Linked DNA regions of Homo sapiens. The protein of the gene in region 2 purifies or fractionates together with the protein of the main gene of each other region. This does not show direct contact. Each region holds a gene or a part of one and is shown on either strand. Other genes may lie near its edges.

What was found.
Region 1: the proteins of SLC49A3 (region 2) and CNNM1 purify together in Homo sapiens (affinity purification with mass spectrometry; one large-scale study listed by BioGRID and IntAct). This does not show direct contact.

What each region holds. Positions count from the first base shown.
Region 1 is NC_000010.11:99,332,248-99,336,058, reverse strand, and holds part of CNNM1 (metal transporter CNNM1), read right to left. Parts: intron 1-3,811. UniProt on the Homo sapiens protein: Probable metal transporter.
Region 2 is NC_000004.12:686,892-690,802, forward strand, and holds the start of SLC49A3 (solute carrier family 49 member A3), read right to left. Parts: upstream 2,261-3,911; 5' UTR 2,237-2,260; coding exon 2,102-2,236; coding exon of another isoform or gene 2,015-2,101; exon of another isoform or gene 2,008-2,014; intron 1,975-2,007; exon of another isoform or gene 1,194-1,974; coding exon of another isoform or gene 1,018-1,193; exon of another isoform or gene 924-1,017; coding exon of another isoform or gene 739-923; exon of another isoform or gene 581-738; intron 455-580; exon of another isoform or gene 1-454.

The DNA.
Region 1 (3,811 bases), on a different chromosome or scaffold from region 2:
TTATGGACTGAATGTTTGTCTTCCCACAAAATTCATATGTTGAAGCCCTAACGACACCCAGAGAGGCCTCTAAGGAAGTATAGTAGTTAAGATTAAATGATGGCATAAGGGTGGGCCCTAATCCAACAGGATTGATGTCTTTCTAAGAAGAGAGGACCAGAGCCTCTTGCTGTCTGTGGACAGGCACTGAGGAAAGGCCATGGAGAGAAGGCACCCACATGCAAGCCAGGAAGAACGTCCTCACCAGAAACTGAGTTGGCCAAAACCTTGATCTTGGATGTCAAAGCCTTGAATTGCGAGAAAATAAATTTCTGTTGTTTAGGTCACCAGTCTATGCTATTTTCTAATGACAGCCTGTGCAGACGACAATGATTAATAGGATGAGGTGAATGCAAAGGAAAGCTTTCTAGTCTGGGAGACTAAAGGGACAAGTGGTGCCACTTACTGGGGACAGAGGCCCATGAAGAGGAAGAGGAGAGATTTGCTGGGATCAAGGAACAACATTAATTATTCCGTACTTAGGGTTCACCTCACTCAAACATAGAAATATAGAAGTTAGGTATTTAAAACCATTTATTCAATAAATGGTTATACATCCCCTAGCCATGGCGGTCACTATACTTGTCCTGAGAATACAAAATAAGTAAGATTCATTCTCTGTCCTCAAGGAACTTACAGTCCAGTGGTGAGAAATATTGTTCCCTTTTGTAAACCTCACACTCTAGTGTGAAAGACCATTTTCCTCTTCCCCACTTCTAAAGACTTGCAACTCATAAGAAGTAAAAAGATAAAATCCCATATCATCACCTGTAACTGCAGAGTTGTTTAAGATTGGACAAGAGAAGGTATATAGAAATGTTTTATCAAGTGCAATATGCATGTTAGCAATTACTGTAATTATAAAGCTACATTACTAACCTGCAGAAACTGGAGGTGAATCAGCCATGGGCAGCAATCAGAGGTGAAAAGGCTACCTTTGAACCCTGTGGGTGGCAGGAATTCCAGGATGGAGGAAGGAATAAGACAGGTGTAGCAGGGAAAGAACAGGCTTTCGGGTCCTACAGATGTAGTTCACATCACAGTTCAGTCAGTTATTAGTTATGGAAAGTTGTACAAGTCATGTTATTGATCCGAGCTTTAGTTTCTTCATCTGTAAAATGTAGTTAATGACATCTACCCAGGAGGGTTGTTCTGAGTATGTAAAGGGCCTGGCATGGTGCCTGGAAGAACTGTTGGTGCTCAATTAATGGTAACTGTGGCTCCTATTAATATCGTCATTTTCCTCTTCTACCTTCGAAGGGATTTGTTGGTGGTTACGTTACTTGAGAAGCAAGGAAGTAAGGAAAATGGAAGAGCTATTAAAGACCAGCTTTAAAAATTATTTTTTTCTTATTTATTTATTTATTTTGAGACAGAGTCTTTCTCTGTCACCCAGGCTGGAGTACAGTGGTGCGATCTCAGCTCACTGCAACCTCCGCCTCCTGTCTCAGCAATTCTCCTGTCTCAGCCTCCCAATTAGCTGGGATTACAGGTGTGTGCCACCACACCTGGCTAATTTTTGTATTTTTAGTAGAGATGGGGTTTCACCATGTTGGCCAAGCTGGTCACGAACTCCTGACCTCAGGTGATCCACCCACCTCGCCCTCCCAAAATGCTGGGATTACAGGCGTGAGCCACTGCGCCCAGCCAAAAACGTTATTTTTAAAGGTAAAGGAAAGCAGTTCAACCCAGCTTTCACCTCCTAACCTATGGTGCAAATGTATAACTCCTAAAGAAAATGACCACTATGTTATATGGCTTGCAGCCTGAGAACATCCACCTTGTTCATTATGTCTTATATTCTATCTTAAGTAGATCTACCAAACACTGTTAATAAGGGGTCTCTGAAGGCAATGCTTCTCAAACTTTAATGTTACATAGGAGCCACCTGGCAGCTTGCTAAAATGCAGATTTTCATTCAGTGGATTTAGGGTGAGGCATAAAATTCTGCATTTCTAATAAGTTCCCAGGTGAGACTCATGCTGCTGTTTCACGGACCTTACTTTGAGGAAGTAGCAAGGCTATGAAAGGAAGTGGAAATATCTTCCTTGGTATAGTATTCTCTGTAATGGCTTGCTTCTCTTTAGTGCTCTACCTAAATACAAAGTAGCTATTAATAGAACACTAAAGGAGCTTTTTTCGACCAGGTTTAGAAATTCTGCACAGGGATTCATTTCAGATCAATATCAACTTTTTGGAACAGCTTACTATTTACAAGGCAGTGTGTAAGGTGCTGGGGATATAAGAGTTGATATGACAATTCCTGCTTCGAAAGACTGCTCATTATGCCCTGTATATTGCTAACCTCCTGAGGACAGTCTTCCTGTCTCCCTTGTTGCCTAAAACTGTATAGATGTTTAAAAAATACTAAATGAGGCCAAGTGCAGTGGCTCATGCCTGTAATCTCAGCACTTTGGGAGGCCAAGGCAGGTGGATCACCTGAGGTCGGGAGTTCGAGACCAGCTTGGCCAACATGGTGAAACCCTGTCTCTACTAAAAATACAAAAATTAGCCAGGCGTGTTGGTGCACTCCTGTAATCACAGCTACTTGGGAGGCTGAGGCAGAAGAATCACTTGAACCCAGGAGACAGAGTTTGTAGTGAGCCAAGATGGCGCCACTGCATTCCAGCCTGGGCGACAGAGTGAAACTCTGTCTCAAACAAACAAACAAACAAACCTAAACAAATGAATGAATGAGTTCACAGGAGTTTCATTTAAAACATCTTCTGCCAGCACATGACAATGAGACACTATCTTAACTGCTCTGTATCTTAACTATCAGTTTTAAGAGGTGACTGAGTTAAAATGAGGCCATTAGGGTGGGCTCTAATCCAATCTGACTGGTGTCCTTGTTAGAAGAGAAAATTTGGACACACAAGGAGACACCAGGGATGCATGCATACAGAGGAAATACCATGTCAGGACACAGTTAGAAGGTGGTGACTGCAAGCCAAGGAGAGACGCCTCAGAAGGAACCAAACCTGCCAGACACCTTGATCTTGGACTGCTAGCCCCCAGATCTTTGAGGAAATAAATTTCTGTGGTTTATGCCACCCAATGCCCAGATCTAAGACCCTACTTCTGTAAGATATACAAAATGTAAGCATAATTCTAAGAGTGGATAGATGAACCTCAAGTTGCAGTGGGAACTATGAATGCAAGGATTAAGGCGAGATGGACTGAACAGGGTGAGACAGCAACCGAAAATGGACTAAAATAGCTGCCATATATACATTTCTCTCCCTTCTCATCATACCAACACAAAGTCTAGGGCTGTTCTCTCAAATCTGAGACTGAAAGTAGCTTTTAGACCTTTTTCCCCCCTTCCAGGCTACATTTTAATATTTAATATGATTTCAAAAATTGTGGCAGGAAAAAGACCCCAGATTTGTTTGTATTCAAAGTTCTAAAGATTATTTATGATGTTAAAGTAGTGAGATTGAATTTTCCCTTCCCTCCCTCCCTCCCTCCTTCCCTTCCTCTCTCTCTCTTTCTTTCTTTTTTGAGACAGGGTCTTGCTCTGTTACCCAGGCTAGAGTTCAGTGGCACAGTCATAGCTCACTGCAGCCTCGGGCTCAAATTATCATGACATTAAATTTTTGACAAAAAATTTATACAAAATGCAGTTAAATGAGAGTACTGCTAGCCATTAGGAAGCTATATCTGAAGGCTGAATCTGAAGTCAAGGGATTGATTTTTTTGGTTTTTGTTTTTAATAAACATTCCAACTCATATCAGATGAATGCCTCCTTCAAAGGAGTCATTCTGGGAA
Region 2 (3,911 bases):
GCATGCCCTGACCGGGGACCAGCCTGGGGGGCAGACACTGAGGCCAAGGACCTGGCCAGAGCCCACAGGACCACGAGCCCTGCCCAGACCAGACCTGGCGCTCCAAGGCAGGGAAAGGTGGGCGTGACGGGGTCTCAGCTAGAACCTCTGGGACTGCAGGCCAGCCCCACCCAAGGCCAGCCTGACCTTCCCTCCTGCAGGGCCCAGGTGTTTGGGCAGAATGTTGCCAGAGCGGGCACCATTCCCCAGCCACAGGCATTATCAAGTACTAGAGCTCTTCACCCCACGGACGTCCAGCACACAGCACAAGTGCACGCTGCGGCCGAGGGGAAGGCCTCCTAGGAGAGGTGAGACTGGCTCATCCCTGAGGGAGGCCAAAGTGGAGCGGGTCACCGGGGCTCACTCCGGGAGGCAGGAGGCCGTGTCACTCAAGGTCAACTTCCATGAGTCGACTGAGCTCCAGGCCACACCCTCGGACACAGCAGCCAGACCCAGGCTCCGCCCGGACAAGGTCTGACTCAGCCCACGGGACAGGACAGGGAGCTTGGGCAACAGCCGCCCTGTCTTCCTTTTTCTGCAGGACGGGGCCAGGCACAGAACGAGCTCCCCAGGCCCAGCTGGTGCCTGCCTGGCCGAGCCCGGGAGAGAAAGCCCACCCTGCGGAGCCGAGCCCGCCGCTCCAGCCTCAGCCCTGTCCTGGTTCCTCGGGGGCCTGAGTGGGGCCCACAGCTGACTCACTGAGAAGAGATGCGTCTGAAGCGTGCGGGGCAACGTGGGAGGACGATCTGTCTGACTCCCTTCCTCATCTCCCAGCCTCGACCCTGCCTGCGCTCGCCCCCTTGGGTCCTTTGAGTCTCATCCAGAGCACTGGGCTGCCTTCCGGGGTGGGTGTTGACCCAAGCTCTGCTCCGCCTGGCCCTCATGCTGCTGGTTGGAACCCGGGATCCCTGGTCACTGGCTGCAGATGAGTAACCTCCAGCCTCAAGGGCACTTGGCTGGAGTGAACATGGTGCTTACGGCTCACTGTGGTGACCCAGGCAGAGACCATGACGACTCTTGGTGTCAGGGTGAGATTTCTGTGTGCTCCATGATGACTCGTGGATATTAATAAAACAGTGAAGAACTGCAGCAGGAGGCCCTTGACTGTCCAAGGAACGCCCCACACCTACGACACCCACTGACTCTTGGACCATGAAACCAGCCCTGCACCCTCAGACACTCCACCCAAAGCCAGTTATGGCTTCCCCAGTGCCTGGACATGGTGGGCCAGGACGCCAAGCCACAGCAGTGAGTTACGGCTCGTGCCAGCATTGTGGGCAGCAGGCAGCCCCTGGGCCCATCCAGCAGATCCCGGGCCTGTCTCGGCCAGAGGCTGGCCCTCCATACCCAGCCAGCAAAGGAGGAGGGGAGAGGCCCCGGGGTCCACCTGGAAGAGCCCTGACCCAGGCCTGAGAGTGACTCCTGCCCCTGCCCCCGAGCTTCCTGACCATCCCCGTGACCTGGCGCCTCCCTGAGCTGTGGGTCCTGCTGCCAACTCTAGCTGTTCATTGCACGTTGGCCAGATACTGCCTGACCAGTTCCTGAGGCTCCGGGGGATGGCTGATGAGGGCACACAGGGCGGGAAAGGCTGCAGCGTGCAACACCTGAAGGGGGTGGGGGCAGGACGGAACCCAGCCCAGCCCAGGAGCCGCCCCTCACTCAGAGTCAGGTGGAGGGGAGGGCGGCTCCAAGCGCGCCTCTGCTGTGTGCCTGCTGTCCTGGGGCTGGGAGGCGTGGAAGGAGAGAGGGCCAACGCAGGGCCACCTGTATGTGACTGGCTGGGGAAGAGGGACCCAGGCTGGAGCCACTGAAGGCTGGGAAGGGCTGGGACTCCGTGACTGGCAGATCCCCCGGGGCACCCAGCCCTGCTCTGTGCCCTGGGCCCAGCCACCTCCAGGACAGACAGTGCCCCCAGTGCCCGCAATCCCTAGCCACCTCCAGAAGGCACCCCCCGCCCCCAGCCAGCACCTGGCACCTCGGGCTGTGGCCACAGGAAAACAAAACCCGGCTGGTCCGAGGGACTGAGGGTCCCGGAGCCACCTGTCCCCGCCCCTGCCCCTACCGTGGCGTTGGAGCAGTTGAGCAGGCTGATCGCGAGCAGGAACACCCAGCGGCGCGCGTAGGTGCGGTGGCCCCGCTGCGCGCACAGGGCCCGGGGCTCGGCCAACCCCGTCTCGGCCTCCGTCGGCCCCGCCATCGTCGGCGGCCTCCACGGGTCTCCGCCGGTCCCGCCGGCCGCCCGGGCTTAAGGACCTTCCCGCGTGGGCCGGGACCGCCTGCGGGCGGAGGTGGGGCCGGGCCGGGCCGGGCCACGGGGGGCCAGTTCCGCCCCAAGGACTACGGAGGAGGGTCCCGCCCCGTCCCAGTTAAAGGAGACCCAAAAAAGCGGGGGAAGGGCGGGCAAAGGTGAAGTTGGACCCTCCTCCTTCGGCCTCAGGCTGGAAGTCCCTGCCACAAAAACCGAATGTCCCTTCCGGGAAGGGCCCCGGTCACAGCCTGTGTGCTTCTCAGCAGGAAAGGCGGCCTGGAAGTCACTCTGCCCAGCAGAAGCTCTGCACTTCCTGAAGGGGGCTGTGGACCCCAAGTTCCTGAGGTTCAAGCCAGCCACAGGGAGGGGCCAGAGGCCAGCCTGGAAGAAGAGGCTGGGCTGGCTTTGCGCAGAGCCTCAAATCAGACCAGTCCCTCTACAGCCCCTGCGGGAAGCAGGCATGGGGTAGGAGGGCGAGGGGCTGCAGGCCAAGGCTGGAGGGAAGGCCAGAAAGGCCTGTGGGCCCCACCCTGGGGTAGGCAGTCCGCCACACACGCACCGGATTGTTACCTGCATTTTACAATGGAGGACACGGCTCTCAGAGGAGTAGGCACAGGTTTCTGTTTGTTTAGGATGGAGAGGCCTGTGTGTTGGAAGGCAGAGGAGGGAGTTTCGGCTTAGTCTTTTCTGCAAGAACCTGCTGATCCCACAACTGTGCCTGGCCCACCCTGGGGGAACCCAAGAGGCTCCAGGCCCTGTTGCTGAGGCCAGTATAGGGGTGGGGTGGAGGCTGGCCTGGTCAGACGTGCAAACAGGATTTCCCCCAAACAGGGAGGCTCTCTTGACCCTTGAAACCATCCCCGTTTCCTGAACAGTATTATTCGTGGTTTTTGTCTTAAACATTCATCTCCTTTGCCAGGGCCTGTCCATTTTCCACACCTGAGTCTGAACAGGCTAATGATGAGGCCCCAGCTTTCACTGTGCAGTCTTCTGCAGGGATTGTGTGTGTGTCTCAGATAGAGCTCTCCACTTTGGGATTTTTTTTTTTTTGTAGAGTCTCATCCAGTAACAAAGAGAAAATGGAGCTCACCCGGGGTGTCCTGAGATGGGTGGGCCCCAAGGGGGTTCCATTCTCTGAGACGTGTGATGGAGCCCTGTGGTCCTCACTCTCTTTATCTCCTCTGCCTTCCCCACCGTCTAGCCTCCCCCCTCATCTTTGTTCCCCATTCCCCCACCAGTTCCTTCTGTTCTCCTTCTCCTCACCTCTTGCTCGCCCTGCCCTGAGGACCCAGCCCCCTCACAACCTTCCTCCATAGTCCAGTGCCAATGTTGGCCTAGGGCCTTCAACATCCCCTAACCCCACCTGGCAGAGGGGGAGTTGCAGTGCAGGCTTCCCTGTTGAGGGACCTCACTATTGTGGAGCACTGCCTCTGACAGGTGGTGTCTGAGCCTGTCACCATGAAATGGGGCAGCCACAGTAGCTACCTCCATCGTTCAGTCTCTGTTGAGCGTGCATTGTCGAGGGGTGTCACCATGAAACGGGGCAGCCACTGTAGCTACCTCCATTGTTCAGTCTCTGTTGAGCGTGCATTGTTGAGGGGCTCCTCCTCCCTACATGTCGGAA